Homo sapiens: one gene and its partner. Each later gene encodes a partner of the first gene's protein in a complex. Each region holds a gene or a part of one and is shown in the gene's direction. Other genes may lie near its edges. The genes, in order: REN and AGT.

Region 1 (10,286 bases):
CAGGCCTTGTGGGAACAAGTGATTCATTAAGACTGTAGAAGGAAGCTGGGCACGCGGCTCATGCTTGTAATTCCAGCACTTTGAGAGGCTGAGGTGGGCAGATCGCTTGAGCTCACGAGTTCAAGACCAGCCTAGGCAACATGGTGAAACCTTGTCTGTACAAATACAAAAATTAGCTAGGTGTGGTGGTGCAAATCTGTAGTCCCAGCTACTCGGGAGGCTGAGGTGGGAGCATCACTTCAGCCTGGGAGGTGGAGGCTGCAGTGAGCAGAGACTGACCCACTGTGCTCTAGCCTGGGTGATAGAGCCAGACCTTATGTAAAAAAAAAAAAAAAAAAAAAAAAGACTGAAGAAGGGGAAGAGACAGCATTTGAGAAAAGGCCTCACAGAGAAAGGGGTTTTCAATCTGGGGACAGCAGATATGACCAGCAGTCCTGAAGGTAGGGAGGCACACTTTAATAATGGTAATAGTTGCTAAGCCTATAAAATGCTTAGGGTGTCACAGGATCTTTTCACATGTCTCATCTCAAGTCATGCCCCCAACAACTCAGCATTCCCACTTTGCAGATGAGGACACTGAGGCTCAGGGAGGTGATATGTAAGAGGCTAAGCCTCAACACACACTGGGCCTTTTGCTTCCGAAACTGCTTTCCCTTGCTCTGAGGCTCTCGGAGAGTAATTGCTGGGTTGTGAGCACTGGGTAAGAGGATGGGTGCTTCAAAGCAGCTGCACTCCAGGATAAAGGTAGAGGAAAGTAAAAACATCTTCCCCTGCTGTTATCCAAAAGAGAAAAAGAATGGAATTGGGCAAGGGGTGGAGGGGGAATCCAGCTTTTGAAACAGTATTATAGGAATTTTGCTACCCGCTATGTGCAGAGCATCATGCGAGGCACTTGGGACAGCTGAATGAATGAGCTCCATTCTCAAGGTGAACATGTACATATACACACCTACAATTTACATTTATTGAGCAGTGGTCGCATGGTTTCATCTGCACAGTGACTCTGAGGTAGGTACTACCATTAGGCCCATTGTTAGAGAGGGGTTAATGGAGACTTAGAAGAGGCCCAGAGAGGTTAGGTAGCTTTCTCAGAATCACATAAGTGGTAAGGGGATTCAGGCATGCCCCCTGCAACCACTGTCTTCACCACCGTACGGCACCAGTTCCACAAGCTGTACAGTGTGGGCTGTGAGACCCAAGGAAAAACAGAGCTGAGGCCCACGGGAAGGTGAGGCCGGTGTGGGCTGGAGGCCTTGGGGTAAGCTTCCTGGAGGTGGGGGTACATGTTGGGCCTTGGAGGACTAAAGAACTGGGGGGAAAAGGAAGGGAAGAAGGAAAGGATTTTCTGAAAAGGAAATGGCAAGAAGTAAAGGTCCAAAGCATAGGCTGTTGTGAGTAAACAGTGGGAAATGCAACCTCTTTGGGGCCAAACCTCTGACCCTCCACGTTCCCAGCTGTGAAGTGGGAGTAATAAAATCATCCACCTTATGAGAGCAAATAAAATAATGATTGTGAAAATATTTTGGTAACAGTAACCTGTGATAGGAAGATAACAAATCATTTCTGTTACAATACCATGCTGATAGGCATAAAAGTTGCATTCATGTTCATGGGCAAAATGGGGGTAAGTAGAATGCATGGGACGCAAGAAGGATGTAGGAAGGAAAGGGTAGTGTGAGTATAGGAGGACTAGCCACTGAGAAGAAAGTAGAAGAAAGAGGGAATCTTTGTGTGTATGGGAAAGTCTATTGCAGAGTCAACTTGGGCTTCCATCCTGGGACCTTCCCGTGAACAGCTAGAGACATCTTCCTCTGGGCTTTGGCAGCCTTTATGTCGGGACCCAGGGGACCCTATATGGGAAATAGGGCCAGACACATGCTCTGAATCCCTGCTTCAACATTTCTGAGTCACCTTTGTCCCTGTGAGCCTTCATTTTTCTCATCTATAAAATGGATGACAGCTAGCTTGTTGGTGTGATTTCAGTAGCGGCTCAGTAGAGTCAGTTTCCTAGGTCTCTTTAATTCTGCCTCTCAAAGGTGATGGGAAAACATCTAGACAAGAAGCCAAGGGACCGGGACACATCTCTCCAAGGACGAGGTGCATGGCGCTCTGAAGATGCTGGCATCTCTCTAGGCCCAACCCAGCTCAGGGGGTCCACTCCACCACAGCCCTGGCTGGGTGCCTGTCCCCTGGTATCCTGGAGACCTTGCAGCTGCTGTGGGCATCTGCTGCCACCTAGCGGCCTCCCATGGCACTGTCTCCCCGCCAGCCCCTAGTTTTGACAGGGGCACTCCCTGGCATTAATCTCTTCAGAGGGAATGTCTGTGCCTGTTTCCTGTCTGTCCTCCCGCCAGGTGGAGTTCCTTAAAGGCAGTCATGATCATTATCTTTCTAGCTCCAGTGTCCAGCACAGTGAGGCACAAAGTAGTTGTTCAGCAGGTGATTACGGAATAAATGAATGAACGGACCAATAAACAAATAGCCTTGTCTAATCAAAATTAGGCAACAGAAGGAAGTCACTTCAGGGTTATTTAATCCCCGGGCAGCTGACTCCTCTAAATTGACTCTTGACAAGAAGTAACTCTTATAAATGCTCCAGAGGCCCTCAGCGACAGAGGTGATTTCCAGGTGGCTGGGCTAACGTTAAAGGTGGTTGTACTAAAAGCAGGGGTTTGGCCTCAGGGACTCCACCACTGTGGTGGAGGTACAGCACTTTTCTATTTTTGCTTCCTCCACCCTGGGCCAGGATCTTCCTCAAGAGAATGCCCTCAATCCGAGAAAGCCTGAAGGAACGAGGTGTGGACATGGCCAGGCTTGGTCCCGAGTGGAGCCAACCCATGAAGAGGCTGACACTTGGCAACACCACCTCCTCCGTGATCCTCACCAACTACATGGACGTGAGTGCTTGGCTCAGCCCCTCGCTCCCTCCCTGTCTCCTTTCCCTCATGGACCTAGGGCTTTCTTTGCTGCAAGACTCACCCTTTCCAAGCTGTGTTTGACGAAGGCGCTGAGTAGCACGTGAGCACCCTAGAAAATTCCCATTTTCCAGCTGGAAAGCCTGAGCACAGAAGACAGGAAGGCATCCAGGGGCCATTCAGGGGCAGGGTTAGGTTTGGAACTCAGCCCAGGCCTCAAGCCAGGTGTCACAGGTGGGTGGGAAGGGGTGTGTGACTCAGGTGGGGGTTTCTGTGACCTGGCCCAGCACAACCTGATGGCTTCCTGCCCCAGAGGATCCTCAAGAGTCAAGTTTGCTTCCTGCTTCATTCTCAATGTTTTGATTTTGCCCTCTTGTCTTACTGAGACTCCCACTTTCTGGGATGCCATGGGGAGATGCTAAGCCTCCTACCAGTTCCTGCAGGAAAATGGAAACCCCGAGAGGCTATAGGACCTCGCCTGGGCCAAGTCTCACACCGAGAGCCAAGAGTGAAGCCAGGCAAGACCCCAAGACCCAAGGTCCCCTGAGCCCCTCCAGCCCTCTCTTTTTACCCCCACAGACCCAGTACTATGGCGAGATTGGCATCGGCACCCCACCCCAGACCTTCAAAGTCGTCTTTGACACTGGTTCGTCCAATGTTTGGGTGCCCTCCTCCAAGTGCAGCCGTCTCTACACTGCCTGTGGTGAGACCTAAGACCCACAGTGCCTCTCCTCCATCCCCCTGCCCTACTGTGCATGAGCAATCCTGCCCAACACCCAGCTCCCATCCCTCTTGCCACCAAGGGAGTGGCTTCCTCTCTGCCTCTGTGCCCACTGACATGTAGGGGAGAGGGGAAGATGTCTCCCGTTTTTCTGATACAGCCACCAAGGTTAAAAACAAAAAAAGGTCCAAGAACCCCTGAGCACCCAGAAGGCCACTTCCCAGTCTTCCTGAGATTGAGACAGGACTGAATTCTCAAACCCATCCCAGGCACTCGGAACTCTTCCATCCCTAGTCTTAATCAACAACCTCTTACTAGGCACTTACTCTGTGCCTGGCATCTTCTCTGGTGTTATCAGTGTTAGTGATTACTTTAAATTCCTTCATTTAGGACAAAATTCTCGATGTATGGGCACATTAGGAGAGCCCAAGAAACCCAGTCCTTGATTGATGAAGCACATATTCCAAGCCCCCTGACCCTAGGGCCACTCATCCCTGCACCTAAGCTAACCAGCCATACCCACAATGCACCCTGCCTCTGAGTCCCCCTGTCTGGGCCACTCTTGGACAAACCTGAGCCTCTGTCCCCCTGCCAGTGTATCACAAGCTCTTCGATGCTTCGGATTCCTCCAGCTACAAGCACAATGGAACAGAACTCACCCTCCGCTATTCAACAGGGACAGTCAGTGGCTTTCTCAGCCAGGACATCATCACCGTAAGTTGGGCCGCCCTAGGTCATCTGCCCCGGACCCCTTCTGTCCCCAGGCCTCTCCTGACCCTCCAGGGCCCACACCTGCGGGGAGGTACACTGCAGCCCACTTGGAGCCTGGGGAGCTGAGGAACACCCTACTCTGCCACATCTGGCTGTTGCTGCAAAGCAGCAGTACCTATGGGGGAGCAAGCCTGGGCTACGGGCTCACCGTTGGGTGGTTTGTGGATGTTTTTGCATCTAACTTGCATGTAGGGCTTGTCCTGAGCCCCGTGGCTGCAGTCAAGTAACTCGTCCAAGTTCACCAGCTCTGACTGGGCTACACCCTAGACTGAAATCCAGGGTCAGAGTCAGGCTGAGTTTTAGGGTCAGGCATAGGTTTTAAGGTCACAGTTGAGGTTGACTCTGGGACTCAGGTCAAGGCCTGCTTTTCTTTTCCATGTGGCCCATGTCTGACCGTTTCCTCATCCTGGAGTTTCTCAGGCCCTGCTCCATCAGAGTTAGGGGAGGGGCACACGTGGCACCTGAGAGGAAATCAGGGTGATTCCTGCCTCCCTTCCTTTTTCTGTGAACTCAGATATAAAGGAGGGAGAAGGGCAAGCTTGTCTGTGCTAAAGAAACCCTTCGCCCATGATAAGGGTGGGGGCCAAGACCCAGTCCTGCCAGGCACGAAAGTCTGGCCACTGGGGAGGGGAGGAGCTCTTGGCAGCTTTTCTTTTGCTGCTTGGCAGGACCACCCTCTCAGCCTCTGCTCTCCGATCCCTGGTCAACTCTAGCTCTCTCTGGGCTCCGCAGCAGAGATGTGTATTGGCACAGAGTGTGTGCGTGCAGGGTTGAGGAAATACTCTTACCCCGATTTCTGTACCCTGGAGCATGTGTGCCCCTGGGATCCCTAGTGTGGAAGCCCAGACCAGACTCCAACCAAGGAGTGGGCAGTGGGCTTGGTCTCCTCTGGTCCTTCCTCCCACAGGTGGGTGGAATCACGGTGACACAGATGTTTGGAGAGGTCACGGAGATGCCCGCCTTACCCTTCATGCTGGCCGAGTTTGATGGGGTTGTGGGCATGGGCTTCATTGAACAGGCCATTGGCAGGGTCACCCCTATCTTCGACAACATCATCTCCCAAGGGGTGCTAAAAGAGGACGTCTTCTCTTTCTACTACAACAGGTGGGGACTGGGACTCCAAGGGCTGAGGTGGGGGGACAGGAGGGGAGAAGAGATGGGGAGTGGAAGGAGAGTCTGGGCCAGAATTGTAAAGTGTTTGTAATTAGGTGACAGCCAATCAATATCTAGAGCTGTACTAGCCAATATGGAAGGCACTATTGAAATTTAAATTAATTAAATACAGTTAAGCATCAATTAAGCATTCAACTGGTGGCTCTTAGTTGTACTAGCCACACGTCAAATGCCTGGCAGCCACGGTGGCTAGTAACTACAGTCTTATGACAGTGCAGATAGAGAATATTCCCAGCATGACAGGACATTCTAATAGACAGCGCCACTCTGGAGCAAGAGGAGATGCAAGGTGGGGGCGATGGTAAATAAGGGATTACTGTGACCTGTAGCCCTGCCTGTTAGGGCCATGGCTCCTCCCACACAGAGACAGCCAACTTCAGTCATCCATTAGATCCTTCATTCGTTTGTTTGCTCACTCATCAGTTCAGTAAATGCTATGTGCCAAGCACTGTGGTAGGCTCTGGGGGTGCAGCAGTGAACACAGTGAACAAGGCAGAATCTGTACTCCCCTACCCACATAGAGCTTACAGGCTAACAGGGAAGACAAGACATATTCCAACATAAAGAGTGTCACAGGCAGGCAGCAAGTGTGGTGCTGAAAACCATGGATGCTTTTCAATTCTAGGCTGAGCTTATATGCAGCTCAGCCAGCCTTGGGGAAGCTCTTGAGCAGGGTTGGGCTCTACTCCAAACTGCTGGGCTTAGAAAGATGGCATGAGTTGGAGACAAGAGAGCTGGAGGCAAAAGGGGCTGGGTGCAGTGGCTCATGCCTGTAATCCCAGCACTTTGGGAGGCCAAGGCGAGAGGATCGCATGAGCCCAGGAGTTAAGGCTTCAGTGAGCAGTGATTGTGCCACTGCACTCCAGCTAAGGCAACAGAGTGAGATCCAGTCTCAAAAAAAAAAAAAAAAAAAAAAAAGTCACAAGGGTAAGAACATGAGGCCAGTGGCAAAAAGAATAGAGGAGAGGATCAGAGTTCAGAGAAATCTCACAGTAAAATGGAGAGGAGTCTCCGGTTTGGTGATAGAAAGTGAGGCCTTGAGAAAAGGCCAATTGGCGGCTCTGCATTCAGGGGTGGTCTTTAGAAGAACTGTTTTAGAGGAAGTGGGGGCAAGGCCAGATGGCAAGAAGTTAAGAGGTGGACGACGTGGGTGTCAGGAAGTGGAGGTCATGAGATGTAGGCTGCCCTGGGACATTCAACAGGGAAGGGAATGGGGGGTGGCGTGGGGGGTGAGATCCAGAAGCAGAAGAGGAAGGGTGGGTGTTTTTAAATGCTAGAGGATGCTCGAGTGATGCCTGTAGGTGGAGGAAGAAGCCAATGGAAAGAAAGAGATTAAAAATGTGGAAAGAAGAGGAGCTAAATGGGGGCACTGGAGTTTGGAGGCCTTGAAAGAGATGAGGTTCCAGCAGACAGGAAGAAGCCAGGTTTTGCAGAGGAGAGGGCTGGCCTCTTCTTTTATCTTGGGATGGGAAGGAGGGAACATCCAGAGAGATACTGAAGTGTTGAGAGACAGGCAGGAGGGAATTTGTGCTAGCATATACACATACATTCCGAATTTATAAAAACACAAGTAGTTTGCAGTTGCACAAAATAACATATGCACACCTACACACCCATGCACACATGTGCATGTGTGAATTCTAGTATGAATTCTGGAAAAACACATCACACACACAGGCATGCCCTGGAGACTAGGCCTACAGTAGTCCCTGAGCCAAGTGCAGTGAGGAGGAAAGGAAGGTGAGGGGAATCAGCTCCAGACGGGGCACCAGGAGCCTGGCTCCAGTCCCCCACTTGTTCACTCATGGACTGGGTAACTTCAGGCAAGTGACTTCGCCTCTTGGTGACTCCATTGCCTGAAGGGCAAAGAGAGTACATAACACCCACCCTGCCAAACAGCAGGGCTGATGAGGCTGGCATGAAATGAAGCTTCCTTTCTGCTGTCTCTCTTTCTCTGCAGAGATTCCGAGTAAGGAGACAAAACCCCCACATGGCTGTGACCTTCCAGTACTCCCCGAGCACCTGACCTAGAATTACACACGCCACCGGCCCAAAACTCACATCAGCAAGCCCAGCCTCCGCTAGATGCCGAAGTTCTCTGTCTCTCCTTCCTGCTCTCTCCATGCCACCTGCCCACCCCATACCCAATAGCCTCCCCAGGGTCCCCTCCCATGCACCTGCTCAATCAGCAGCAACCCAAGAGTGAGGGGTGTCCATTTGTGTCTTGTTCACATCCACTCACTGTCCTTGTACCTGCTCCTTTTCTGTGACCTCTCTGGGGATGCTTTTTGGGGGAACAGCTGGACTACCCTGGAACAACCTCTGGTTGGTCTTGGGGAGGGGAAGAAAGGCAGAGAAGCAGTATGTTCTGCATGCTTCCCAACGACAGCTCCGAGCCTGGCTGTCTGTCCCACATTCCTCTGCTCTAGAGCCCTCTGTCCTCCCCTGCACCCTTGTGCAACCTTCCCCAATTGCCTGAGTTGCTGGGTCCTGGAGGTTATGGGTTTCCAAGAGCTTCTGATCTTTCCTTTAGGAATTCCCAATCGCTGGGAGGACAGATTGTGCTGGGAGGCAGCGACCCCCAGCATTACGAAGGGAATTTCCACTATATCAACCTCATCAAGACTGGTGTCTGGCAGATTCAAATGAAGGGGTCAGAAATCCTCAACCCTCCCCGGGCTCCAAAAAATGCTGCCGTCACTGGGGTTGGGGAGGGTGGGGAAGGACTGCATTACCATCCTGCCCTCTTTCCAAATGCAGCCACTTCTTAAGCACAGCCACCATTTGCTCTCTGCCTGCTCTGTCCAGGCTGGGGAACAGAGAAGGGAGGGGCCTGGGGAGAAGTGGTGGAGGGTGACAGTACCTTCCCTCCTCTACTCACTGCCTCAACAGGCCACCAGCGTGGCCTCCACCCACCCACCCACACTCAGGAAGGACATGCAGCCTGGAGGTGCCCCATCAGCCTTCTGTCTGTCTGTCTGTCTGTCTGTCTGACTGTGGCCTCCCCCAGGGTGTCTGTGGGGTCATCCACCTTGCTCTGTGAAGACGGCTGCCTGGCATTGGTAGACACCGGTGCATCCTACATCTCAGGTTCTACCAGCTCCATAGAGAAGCTCATGGAGGCCTTGGGAGCCAAGAAGAGGCTGTTTGATGTAAGAAGCCAAAGAGGGAAGGTGCTGTGGGTGGGGGGAGCGCCACCTGGTATCGGCTCACAAATCCCCCAGGCAAATGAGGCCATCTCAGGCCTTCGCTTGTTCACCTCACACTCTCCACACATGTGGCTGGTCACCCATGGGGCGGGGCACTGTCCCCAGCCCTCTCCAGCAGAGAGACCAGGCCACCAGCGCAGGACTCCTTGTCTGCTGAGACGTCTTCCATACTCAAGAAGGCTCTCTTTGCCCCCCACCCCAGTATGTCGTGAAGTGTAACGAGGGCCCTACACTCCCCGACATCTCTTTCCACCTGGGAGGCAAAGAATACACGCTCACCAGCGCGGACTATGTATTTCAGGTGAGGTTCGAGTCGGCCCCCTCGGTGGCAGGGAGAAAGGCTGGACAGAGACCCTCAAAGAGTGACAGATTACAATGCACAGGTCATGTTAGAACTGTAGTTCTCAAACTTGGCTGTGCATGTCACCTGGAGAGCTTTGAAAAATCCTGGTACCTGGGCCACATCCCATACCTATTAAATCAGAACCTCTAGAAGTGGCACCTGGGGTTCAGTTTCCCCAGGTGATTCCAATGTGTGGCCATGTTTGGGCATCACTATGCCTGTTCCCTCATCTCCATTTTCTCATCAAATACTCCCAAGAATCCTATGCTCCTATATTCTTACCCTCTTTTCATAATCAATAGGCTTAGAGAAGTTGAATAACTTGTCTAGGATCAGAAGCTAAGGCAAACTGTAAGCTCCTGAAGGAAGCACGGTGCCTGATGCATTGTTTGCCTGGGATCTAGCACAGGGGCTAAACATAGGAGTGGTGCAGTCCACGATGGGGCAAAATGGCCATGATGTGAGGGAGGCCCAGTGTGGCTAGGGGAGAGATGGGGGCGAGAGGGGGAATGTTGCTGAAGACAGTTGCTGGGGGTCAGGCAAGGTGAAAGGAGAATGCTCATGTGCTGGGTATGGAGAAACTCTCCCCCTTCCTGCCAGGAATCCTACAGTAGTAAAAAGCTGTGCACACTGGCCATCCACGCCATGGATATCCCGCCACCCACTGGACCCACCTGGGCCCTGGGGGCCACCTTCATCCGAAAGTTCTACACAGAGTTTGATCGGCGTAACAACCGCATTGGCTTCGCCTTGGCCCGCTGAGGCCCTCTGCCACCCAGGCAGGCCCTGCCTTCAGCCCTGGCCCAGAGCTGGAACACTCTCTGAGATGCCCCTCTGCCTGGGCTTATGCCCTCAGATGGAGACATTGGATGTGGAGCTCCTGCTGGATGCGTGCCCTGACCCCTGCACCAGCCCTTCCCTGCTTTGAGGACAAAGAGAATAAAGACTTCATGTTCACAGCCTGTTGCATCTGGGTTCACTAGGGTTTAGAACAGAGGGAGGGGCTGCGTGATCATGTGTGGACAGGAATGTGACACAGACAAGCTACACATTCGCCTAGCGCACAGGTTCTTGCGTGCAGGGATGATGCCATCCATCTGCCATCAACGGGACTCAGGTGGAGCTGTTTACACAACCTCAGGTGGGAAGTCTGA
Region 2 (10,286 bases), about 27 Mb from region 1:
CAGAGAGAGTTTTCTGTTCCATTTTTCCATGTCATGTGGCTCTTCCTGAGAACAGCGGATGGAGTCAAATGCATGGGGAGTGGGGTGAGATGGTAGCTGAGGTCAGAATTTGGCATTTGAATGACTGAAGCAGAACAAAACACACCAGGTACTTCAGCAGCTGCACCGTGTTGAGGGCAGGTGCTGGTTACGGGTCTGGGTGAGGGAAGCCAGCTGCCAATGTAAGAAGAATGACTGGGTATGCTTAGATGAAGCAGAAAAATCTAGGCATCAAGGTGGCCTTGAGTCAGTGATGACACGCTACAGCTCCAAGGAAGCCTGGCCTAGCCCTGGGGGGACAGAAAAGGCCAAGAAGTGACGATATTGCAGTACACCCCCCTCCACAAGAAATGAGTGAGATGTGGTACAAAATGTTAGAATTGAATGAATCAATAGAATAAACGTTCATCCCTTCAATCAAGAAGAGTCAGATGAAATGAATTAGCAGGGCCAGCCCAAGAACCTCTTCTGGGGGTCTCAGGGTAGCTTTCATTTGTAGCAGCTGAGGCTGAAGCCCAGCTGCAAGGCCTTTGAGAGAACGTGGTGCTGGACCCGTGTCTAGGGCAGGGGTTCTAAACCCTGCTTACATATCAGAGTCACCTGAGAATTTTCTATTTTTTTTTTTTTTTTTTTATACGTGGTCCCAGCACAGACTAAGGAATCCAACTATCATTGGGCAAGCCATGCTAGGTATGCATGCCTTTGGGGCTCTGCAGGGGATAGCGCTATGCAGGGATGGTTGAGAGCTGGTTTTGGGGTTGAGACACGTGGGAAATACTTGGACTTTGGGCTGAGCCTGTGGTGCTCAATCCCGGCTGCATGTTGGGACCACAGGGAGATGACAAAACCATCCCCAGCCCTCACCCTAGGGCCCTCGAATGAGCATCTCAGGGGTCTAGGAGGCCTCCACAAAGACCTACTGATTGGCACACACTTGTTTCTCTAGGAAGAGAACTTACAGCTGCAGGCAGGAGCATGTCTTAATCTGCTTGGGCTGCCATAAGTACCACAGACTGGGAGGGTTTAACAACAGAAATGTGTTATCTCACAGTTCTGGAAGCTAGAAGCCTGGGAGCCAGCCATCAGCAGAGTTGGTTTCCTCTGGGTCCTCTATCCTTGGCTTGTAGATGGCCGTCTTCTCTCTGTGTCCCCACATGGTCTTCCCTCTGTGTCCCCACATGGTCTTCCCTCTGTGTGTGTCCATGTCCTCATCTCCTCTTCTCATAAGGACACAGGTCATATTAGATCAGGGCTCACCCTCATGGCCTCATTTTAACTTAATCATCTCTTTAAAGATCCTGTCTCCAAATAATGGTCACATTCTGAGGTCCTGGGGTTGAGGACTTCAACACGGGCATTATGGCCGTTGGGGGAGGTAGGACATAATTCAGCTGATATTGGTGCATTTTGCACTTGGATCATGTAGATATTTTCCATGGAGCTTTGAATCCATTTCTTCTTTTTTTTGTAGACATGAATGGATTTATTCTGGGCTAAATGGTGACAGGGAATATTGAGACAATGAAAGATCTGGTTAGATGGCACTTAAAGGTCAGTTAATAACCACCTTTCACCCTTTGCAAAATGATATTTCAGGGTATGCGGAAGCGAGCACCCCAGTCTGAGATGGCTCCTGCCGGTGTGAGCCTGAGGGCCACCATCCTCTGCCTCCTGGCCTGGGCTGGCCTGGCTGCAGGTGACCGGGTGTACATACACCCCTTCCACCTCGTCATCCACAATGAGAGTACCTGTGAGCAGCTGGCAAAGGCCAATGCCGGGAAGCCCAAAGACCCCACCTTCATACCTGCTCCAATTCAGGCCAAGACATCCCCTGTGGATGAAAAGGCCCTACAGGACCAGCTGGTGCTAGTCGCTGCAAAACTTGACACCGAAGACAAGTTGAGGGCCGCAATGGTCGGGATGCTGGCCAACTTCTTGGGCTTCCGTATATATGGCATGCACAGTGAGCTATGGGGCGTGGTCCATGGGGCCACCGTCCTCTCCCCAACGGCTGTCTTTGGCACCCTGGCCTCTCTCTATCTGGGAGCCTTGGACCACACAGCTGACAGGCTACAGGCAATCCTGGGTGTTCCTTGGAAGGACAAGAACTGCACCTCCCGGCTGGATGCGCACAAGGTCCTGTCTGCCCTGCAGGCTGTACAGGGCCTGCTAGTGGCCCAGGGCAGGGCTGATAGCCAGGCCCAGCTGCTGCTGTCCACGGTGGTGGGCGTGTTCACAGCCCCAGGCCTGCACCTGAAGCAGCCGTTTGTGCAGGGCCTGGCTCTCTATACCCCTGTGGTCCTCCCACGCTCTCTGGACTTCACAGAACTGGATGTTGCTGCTGAGAAGATTGACAGGTTCATGCAGGCTGTGACAGGATGGAAGACTGGCTGCTCCCTGATGGGAGCCAGTGTGGACAGCACCCTGGCTTTCAACACCTACGTCCACTTCCAAGGTAAGGCAAACCTCTCTGCTGGCTCTGGCCCTAGGACTTAGTATCCAATGTGTAGCTGAGATCAGCCAGTCAGGCCTTGGAGATGGGCAGGGGGCAGCCCTGCGGACATACCTGGTGACCACCCTTGAGAAGTGGGGAAGTGGCTGCTCCGCTGGGTCCCTGGATGGGCCGTCCACCTCCTGGACCTGCTGCCCTACTATGTGCACGACTATACAACATCCTTTTTCTTACATCATTTAATCCCCTTATGATGTGGTGAAGAGGTATTTGTGCCTTTGTTTACCAGTGAAGAAATAGAGACTCGGAGAAACAAAGTGCCTTGCTCAAGATGGCACAGCCACCAGTGGGGGTCCTGGGATTGAAACCCACATCTCCTGGCCCCACAGCCCAGTTCTACACTCAGAAGGGTCAGGTTCATATCTCTTGAGAAGGTCAGGAACTGGGGTCCCTGGCCCATGCAGAAATAAGCAATTGGCTTGCTTAAATCCCTTTCATGTTAGGAGGGGCATTACTGAAAACCCTCTACTACAAAGATTGTTGATTTTTTTTTTTTTTTTTATTGAGACAGGGTCTTGTTCTGTCACCCAGGCTGCAGTGTAGTGGTGCCATCATTGCTCACTGTAGCCTTGAACTCCTGGCCTCAAGCGATCCTCCCACCTCTGCCTTCCAAAGTGTTGGGATTAAAGGTGTGAGCCACTGCACCCAGCCACAGATTGCTTAAAGCATTCATTTAACAAATACTTGTTGAGGATTTGCTACTTGTAAGACTTTAAGCCTGGCATCTCAGAGGAGGCCAGAGGAGGGCTGTATAGGCCCTGCCTCCAGGCTTTTAAAGGTCAATGGGCAAATGCCTAGGATTTGGAGCTGCAGGGAAACGTGCTCCACAAGGTAACTCAGGGAAGCCTCGGGGCTCTCAGAGGACAGAGGTCACTGGGGAGCGGAGAGCAGGCCTTGCCTGGCAGTGAGGGCAACAGGGCTGGTGAAGCTAGGAGCAAGCATGATGAGCCCAGCCTGCAGAGTTTGGGGCAAGGAACGAGGATGGGGCGGTTGGCTTGGCATGAGTGTTGAACCAGAAAATGGGCCTGGGGAGGGCAGAGCTGGAGACACTTTGAACGCCATGCTTGGTAGGTGTGGGAATGGGGACGCGTTCTGTTCAGAGGTCATCCCGGAAGCCTGCCGTGTGCAGACTGGAGGCAGGGAGGATTGTTTGAAGGTTACGCAAGAGTCCAGGCACACAGTCACGGGAACACGTGCTCAGGGAGCAGCTCGGCAAATCCATGGGTGGGGTGGGGCTGAGGGGTGTGTCTAAGAGACACTGAGGAGGCTCTGTCAAGATGTTAACCTCGTGAGGGACAGAGAGCCAGGCGGGAGGTGAAAGACAAGACTGTGGAGAAAGAGGTTCAGTGGCGCATAGTGATTTTTCTTACCACAACAACCTCCTTGAGGTCTTTCCCTTCGGGTTCAGGGAGAGGTGATAGATGGGGGGATTGCTCAGCCCTGGCACTGACTGGTCACAGGGGCAGAGGCCAGCCCGAGGGTTGCCCGGTTGAGGGTGGCAGCACACTGTGCAGGGCAGAGCAGGGACACATGGACTTAGCCTGCTGTCCCTAGGAGAAGTGCTGGGAGGAGCGCTCACTGAGAAGGAGGGTCCTGCAGAAGGCAAAGGCAAGAAAGCCAGTGGCATCTGAAATGGGTCTCCCTTCGAAAGAGAGCACATCCACCTGACCCAGACCGCAGAGCCAGGCCAGGAGGAAGAGGAGGAAGAATAAAAAAGCCAACCACATCGGGACTCAAAGGAAGCCCAGGATCCTCGCCGGCCTCCACCGCATGCTGCCCTGACCCTGCCCCACTTCCTAACTTTGCTGGCCTCAGTTTCCGTCAAAGGAGGCAGCCACTTCCTGCCCACATGGTCTGTCCAGTGAGGAGATCGGGGGCTGTCTCGGGACCTCTAGGTTTCCCTTTAGCAATGATGTTCTATTTACATGACCTCAGCAGGCAGCTAGATGTGTCCCACTAGAGAGGACCTGAGGATCTGGGGCCTGATGGGCTCCAGGGTACCGTCTGCCCAGTGCTTGCTGTGCTCCTGAGCATGGGGCGCTGGCCCTGGTGGTTTCCATGACACCAGGTCCTGACTTGACCTCGACAGATTTACCTAGCCTCCGGATGAGAATGGTGAGCTGTGCATGTCAGACGAGCAGAGGGAAGACGGCAGCCACTCTCATGTCAAATCCCAGCGTCTTTTGGGAGGCAGCTTCCCTTTTTTAGTTTAGTTTGTTGGAAGAAAAGAATTGTCCCTTTCCCCCCTCTAAACTAAAAGCCTTGCCAGCCCAGGTGGGCAGCACCGAGGTCCCTGCAGGGAACGTGCAAGGGGAACCCTGCAGTTTCCCGCTCACATGCCCTTCCGAGACTGAGTGCTCCGAGGACTGAGGACGAGAAATATGCCAGGTCTGCCACTGCCTTCTTACGAGACCCGGACCCAGGGGAGGCACAGCCATGCCCAGCTCCTGCCTGCCAGTTCTGTCCTCCCAGCTGCCCTACTTTCATGCTGGGACCTCCAATTCAGTACAAAGGGAGACCTCACTGTTTCTGAACCATCTCTACTCAGACTCCCAAGTGCCACGTGCCCAGGGGACTGTTCTGTGACAAACTTATACACAACTTCACCCTATTCTCCTAAGAACAACCGCAGAATAGGCCTTTCAGGATGAGTGGGAGGACAGCCGAGGGCAGGGATGTGCTAGTGTAAGGTCGAGGCAGAGGGTGGGCTGCTGTCATGGAAAGACCCCAGGTAACTGCGTCACACACAAATTTGTGTCCTTCTCCCACAACGGGCTCTCCCGAGTTCTCTGTCATCTGCACGGCCCTGTGAGCAGGAGGGGAAACAGAGGGCTCACCCCTGCCCCCAAGGCCCAGTGTGCAAATCCATTCATCACAACGAGGTTGTGTGAGTCTCCCCAGTAGCAAGGGCTGCTGAGGAATGGAGCCCTCGTTTCCGGGGCCTGCGTGGCCCACTCTGTATTCTATGACTGTGATGGGGGAGGGTGGGGGCCACAGGACAGCTGGTGGGCTCTGCCATGGCTGGGGCTAGACATGGATTAAAAAGTGAGTATGAGCAGGGGCCTCTAGGAGTGGTGGGATAGTGCGGTGGTGGCCACATGTCATTCTACGTGCGTCCAAACCTACAGAATGTAAAACACCAGGAGGGAGACTCAAAGAAAACTATCAACTTTGAGTGCTGAGGACGTGTCAGTGTAGGTTCGTCAGTTGCAACAAATGGGCCACGCTGGTGTGAGATGTTGATCACGGGGGAGGCTGTGTAGTGGGGGACAAGAGTTATATGGGAACTTTCTGTACTTTCTGCTCGATTTTGCTGTGAACCTAAAGTCACTCTAAAAAATAACATCTCTTAAATTTTTTAAAAAGTGAGTGTGTCAAACCACAGCCTTTGGGTCAGGACAGTTCTAGGTTTGAGTTGACCTGGCAGGTACCAGTGGCTTATGTCCCTTAAGGTGACAGATGCAAAACCCCCGGTTTGGTGCCTGGCATGTTGTGTGTCTTGCAGGTGGCGGTTAGGGCTGCCTCAGTGAACTCAAATGGCTGCATTTTACAGGAGAAATATTTGAGCCACACTTGCGGTCCTGTGGCCAGGAGAATGCAGAGTGGCCTGGGGGGGGCCAAGGAAGGAGGCTGAGGCAGGGCGAGGGGCAGGATCTGGGCCTTTGGTGTCTGCCAGCCCTCATTCCTGCCCCTGTCTTGGGTGACTCTTCCCTCCCTGTCTCCTGTCTGGATTTCAGGGAAGATGAAGGGCTTCTCCCTGCTGGCCGAGCCCCAGGAGTTCTGGGTGGACAACAGCACCTCAGTGTCTGTTCCCATGCTCTCTGGCATGGGCACCTTCCAGCACTGGAGTGACATCCAGGACAACTTCTCGGTGACTCAAGTGCCCTTCACTGAGAGCGCCTGCCTGCTGCTGATCCAGCCTCACTATGCCTCTGACCTGGACAAGGTGGAGGGTCTCACTTTCCAGCAAAACTCCCTCAACTGGATGAAGAAACTATCTCCCCGGTAGGAGCCTCCCGGTCTCCCCTGGAATGTGGGAGCCACACTGTCCTGCCCAGGCTGGGGGCGGGGTGGGGAGTAGACACACCTGAGCTGAGCCTTGGGTGCAGAGCAGGGCAGGGCCGCGGTGGCACGGGGCTGGGCAGGCGGCCTGTGTGTCTGTCTACCAGTCCTCTATCCAGCCAGCACCCAGCTCTCCAGTTAGTGTCTGTCTTTCAAGTGCAGGCAAGGTAAAGGAGGAGAGGAAGAATGCTTTTTCTACACTTACACTTGCCTGGTAGTTTTGGAGGGGGAGAAAACATTGCAATCCGCCCTCTGAGAGAGGACCATTTTGGTCCCACACCTGACACACAGCACACCTGTGACATCCAAGAGCTTCTTGGAACTGACTTGCCAGGAGGGTTCGGACTTCGCGTGAGCGGGGGTGGGGCCTTCTCAGGGAGCGTCCCTTGACTCCAGAACGCCCTTGCTGGCGGCTGGCGGCTGGGTGGGGATAGGTGTTGTTAGCTCCTCTTTCCTGCTGCAATTCCTTTCCACAGAGCCCTGGACTCAAACTACACATCACCCCAGATCATCGAGGCCTGGAAATCTGCTCCCAGAGGCAGGCATTGAGTGACACGATGGCTTGACATCAACTCTGGGTGTTTTTTATGTTTTAAAAATTGTGATGGTAAAATATACGTAACAAAATTTGCCATCGTAACCATTTTCGAGTGCACAGTTCAGTGGTACTAGGCCCATTCACACTGTTGTGCAGCCATCACCCCCGTCCATCTCCATTTATCTTCTCAACTTCCCAAACTGAAGCTCTGTCCTGCTGAAACACTAACTCTCCATTTCCCCTTCCCCTTGGCCCCGGCAACCACCACGATGTCCTCGAGGTTCACCCATGTTGTAGCACATGTCAGAATGTCCTTCCTTTTGAAGGCTGAATAATATTCCATTGCATGTGGTTACCACCTTTTGTGTATCCACTCATCCATCGATGGACACGTGGGTTGCTTCCACCTTTGAGCTGCTGTGAATAGTGCAGTGTACCCTGTAAACATGGGTGTACTGTCAGCTCTTATAAGTGCTTGATACATCACTGGAAATGTCCATGGGCTCTGAAGGATGCCAAAAGATGGAAGAGGCTCTATACGAAGATCAATCGAGTTGACATAGCAACGTGTCCAGCACGAGGTTGACACTGTACCCTCCTGCCTCTCTCCTTTTCATGGGTGTCATGTCATCAAGAACACTGCTGTGGCAGTAGTAAGACACAGTGCATTATTTCAGAGAATAGCATTTAAAAATTACCCAAGTAACACACCTTCAATGCAGCCAACCTAAAAACAGAATGCACCAAAGGACAACCATTCCTAGGTCCTCATCGGTAAATCTTCTATGTCCCTCACATAGTATTGCAAATGACATGAAGGATTTTTATTGTAGGTTTTGCTGAAATTTTCCCCAAGGGGGAGGATGACTTAGTTGGGTGATGGGGGGAGCAAACATCCCTGTCGTCAGGGTTGGGTGCAAGGAGCATAAGCCTGCCTGGCCTCTGGGAGAGCCCTCACTGTGTGGCCTGGAGCCTTCCTAACTGTGCATCATCTCCCCAGGACCATCCACCTGACCATGCCCCAACTGGTGCTGCAAGGATCTTATGACCTGCAGGACCTGCTCGCCCAGGCTGAGCTGCCCGCCATTCTGCACACCGAGCTGAACCTGCAAAAATTGAGCAATGACCGCATCAGGGTGGGGGAGGTATGTGTGAGCCTGTGTCTGTGCCTGACCTGGGTTCCAAGTGTGCACAGGGTGGGAGGCATGGATGTAAGGGACACAGAGGAGGCTATGGGTGGGGCCAGCAGGGCAAGAGGGAGCGGAGAGTAGGGCCAAAGGTGGGAGAGAAGTAGCCAGAGCATTCTGGGGCCTTCCAGGTGCAGAGCAGCAAATCCCTCCCCATCCCTGCTGTGCCTCCTCCTGCTAGGTGTGTGTTCCATGGTCCTGCTTGGCCTTGCCTTGCCTCAGGGTCCTCCAGGGTTCCTATAGTGGAGTTGAAACCGGGATGAAGACAGCAAGCACCCCTGGACCTGGTGCCCTGGGCCCAGCCCCTTCTTCAGGGAAATGCTGAGCAGCAGACAGAATGTCCCCCTGCCATGTGGCACCATGCACATCTGCAGCTACCAAGGATGTGCCTTGATGTTCTGGGCCCTGTGCTCAGTGCTGGGGAGAAAGTGGGAGTTCTTACGGGGGCCAGCGGGAAGAGCCCTCTGTGCTAAGTTAGCTAAGCCCTGGCACTGGTGGGCCATGGCCAAGGGAGCCAGGAATTCTGCCTGGGACATCAGGGCAGAATGTGAAGATGGGAGGATGTAAGGGGTGTGTTAGGGAGGAGCCGGCATGTGAGTTTGGCCATTGTGGCCAATTAACGGTCATCTACACACAGACACACCCTTGCCTACACTGAGGGGCAGGCATACACTGTGCATCCTCCTGGCAGGCTGGAAAATGTCCCCCTCCAGGACAGTGCACAGCACAGAGGTCCTGAGCCCACCCCGGCCCTCTAGCCCTCAGCACCCTGGGTCACCCAGTGCGCCCTCAGAATGATCCTGATGTCTGCTGCTTTGCAGGTGCTGAACAGCATTTTTTTTGAGCTTGAAGCGGATGAGAGAGAGCCCACAGAGTCTACCCAACAGCTTAACAAGCCTGAGGTCTTGGAGGTGACCCTGAACCGCCCATTCCTGTTTGCTGTGTATGATCAAAGCGCCACTGCCCTGCACTTCCTGGGCCGCGTGGCCAACCCGCTGAGCACAGCATGAGGCCAGGGCCCCAGAACACAGTGCCTGGCAAGGCCTCTGCCCCTGGCCTTTGAGGCAAAGGCCAGCAGCAGATAACAACCCCGGACAAATCAGCGATGTGTCACCCCCAGTCTCCCACCTTTTCTTCTAATGAGTCGACTTTGAGCTGGAAAGCAGCCGTTTCTCCTTGGTCTAAGTGTGCTGCATGGAGTGAGCAGTAGAAGCCTGCAGCGGCACAAATGCACCTCCCAGTTTGCTGGGTTTATTTTAGAGAATGGGGGTGGGGAGGCAAGAACCAGTGTTTAGCGCGGGACTACTGTTCCAAAAAGAATTCCAACCGACCAGCTTGTTTGTGAAACAAAAAAGTGTTCCCTTTTCAAGTTGAGAACAAAAATTGGGTTTTAAAATTAAAGTATACATTTTTGCATTGCCTTCGGTTTGTATTTAGTGTCTTGAATGTAAGAACATGACCTCCGTGTAGTGTCTGTAATACCTTAGTTTTTTCCACAGATGCTTGTGATTTTTGAACAATACGTGAAAGATGCAAGCACCTGAATTTCTGTTTGAATGCGGAACCATAGCTGGTTATTTCTCCCTTGTGTTAGTAATAAACGTCTTGCCACAATAAGCCTCCAAAAATTTTATCTTTCATTTAGCAGCCAAACAGATGTATACAATTCAGCAGATAGACTGTGCAAACGAAAGTGCTTTCCTGGACTTTGGATGGAATTTCCATGGGAGGTCTGAGCCAGTACTTAGCAGTCCTTTGAAGTTTTAGGTGATGCTTTTCTCTGGACACTTCCATTGGTAAGCAGTGGTGGCCATCTGTGTGATGGACAGGGGGCGGGAAGAGGGTGACAGGGAAGGCCCCATACCCCATGTGGCACCTGGGAAAGGAACCAGGCAGATGGGACTTCTTCCGTCCTGGTGACACAGGGCCAGACTGCTGCTGGTATTGT

What was found.
Region 2: the proteins of REN (region 1) and AGT are in contact, whole or in part, in a crystal structure (PDB 6I3F), measured with the Homo sapiens proteins. Residues at the interface, in NP_000528.1 of Homo sapiens: Tyr81 (codon at 2,889), Met82 (codon at 2,892), Thr84 (codon at 3,495), Gln85 (codon at 3,498), Val102 (codon at 3,549), Asp104 (codon at 3,555), Gly106 (codon at 3,561), Ser107 (codon at 3,564), Asn109 (codon at 3,570), Ser118 (codon at 3,597), Arg119 (codon at 3,600), Leu120 (codon at 3,603), Tyr121 (codon at 3,606), Thr122 (codon at 3,609), Val125 (codon at 3,618), Tyr126 (codon at 4,234), Leu147 (codon at 4,297), Arg148 (codon at 4,300), Tyr149 (codon at 4,303), Ser150 (codon at 4,306), Pro181 (codon at 5,363), Ala182 (codon at 5,366), Leu183 (codon at 5,369), Pro184 (codon at 5,372), Met186 (codon at 5,378), Leu187 (codon at 5,381), Ala188 (codon at 5,384), Glu189 (codon at 5,387), Phe190 (codon at 5,390), Val193 (codon at 5,399); in NP_001369746.2 of Homo sapiens: Asp25, Tyr28, Ile29, His30, Pro31, Phe32, His33, Leu34, Val35, Ile36, His37, Asn38, Glu39, Lys91, Leu92, Ala95, Met96, Met99, Leu100, Phe103, Arg107, Arg148, Ala151, Ile152, Gly154, Gln353, Gln354, Asn355, Asn358, Glu391.

What each region holds. Positions count from the first base shown.
Region 1 is NC_000001.11:204,154,624-204,164,909, reverse strand, and holds the end of REN (renin preproprotein), read left to right. Parts: intron 1-2,746; coding exon 2,747-2,897; intron 2,898-3,494; coding exon 3,495-3,618; intron 3,619-4,231; coding exon 4,232-4,350; intron 4,351-5,314; coding exon 5,315-5,511; intron 5,512-7,540; coding exon 7,541-7,549; intron 7,550-8,113; coding exon 8,114-8,233; intron 8,234-8,590; coding exon 8,591-8,732; intron 8,733-8,991; coding exon 8,992-9,090; intron 9,091-9,732; coding exon 9,733-9,894; 3' UTR 9,895-10,091; downstream 10,092-10,286. UniProt on the Homo sapiens protein: Renin is a highly specific endopeptidase, whose only known function is to generate angiotensin I from angiotensinogen in the plasma, initiating a cascade of reactions that produce an elevation of blood pressure and increased sodium retention by the kidney.
Region 2 is NC_000001.11:230,702,203-230,712,488, reverse strand, and holds the end of AGT (angiotensinogen precursor), read left to right. Parts: intron 1-1,635; 5' UTR 1,636-1,665; coding exon 1,666-2,494; intron 2,495-6,288; coding exon 6,289-6,556; intron 6,557-8,151; coding exon 8,152-8,296; intron 8,297-9,159; coding exon 9,160-9,348; 3' UTR 9,349-9,966; downstream 9,967-10,286. UniProt on the Homo sapiens protein: Essential component of the renin-angiotensin system (RAS), a potent regulator of blood pressure, body fluid and electrolyte homeostasis.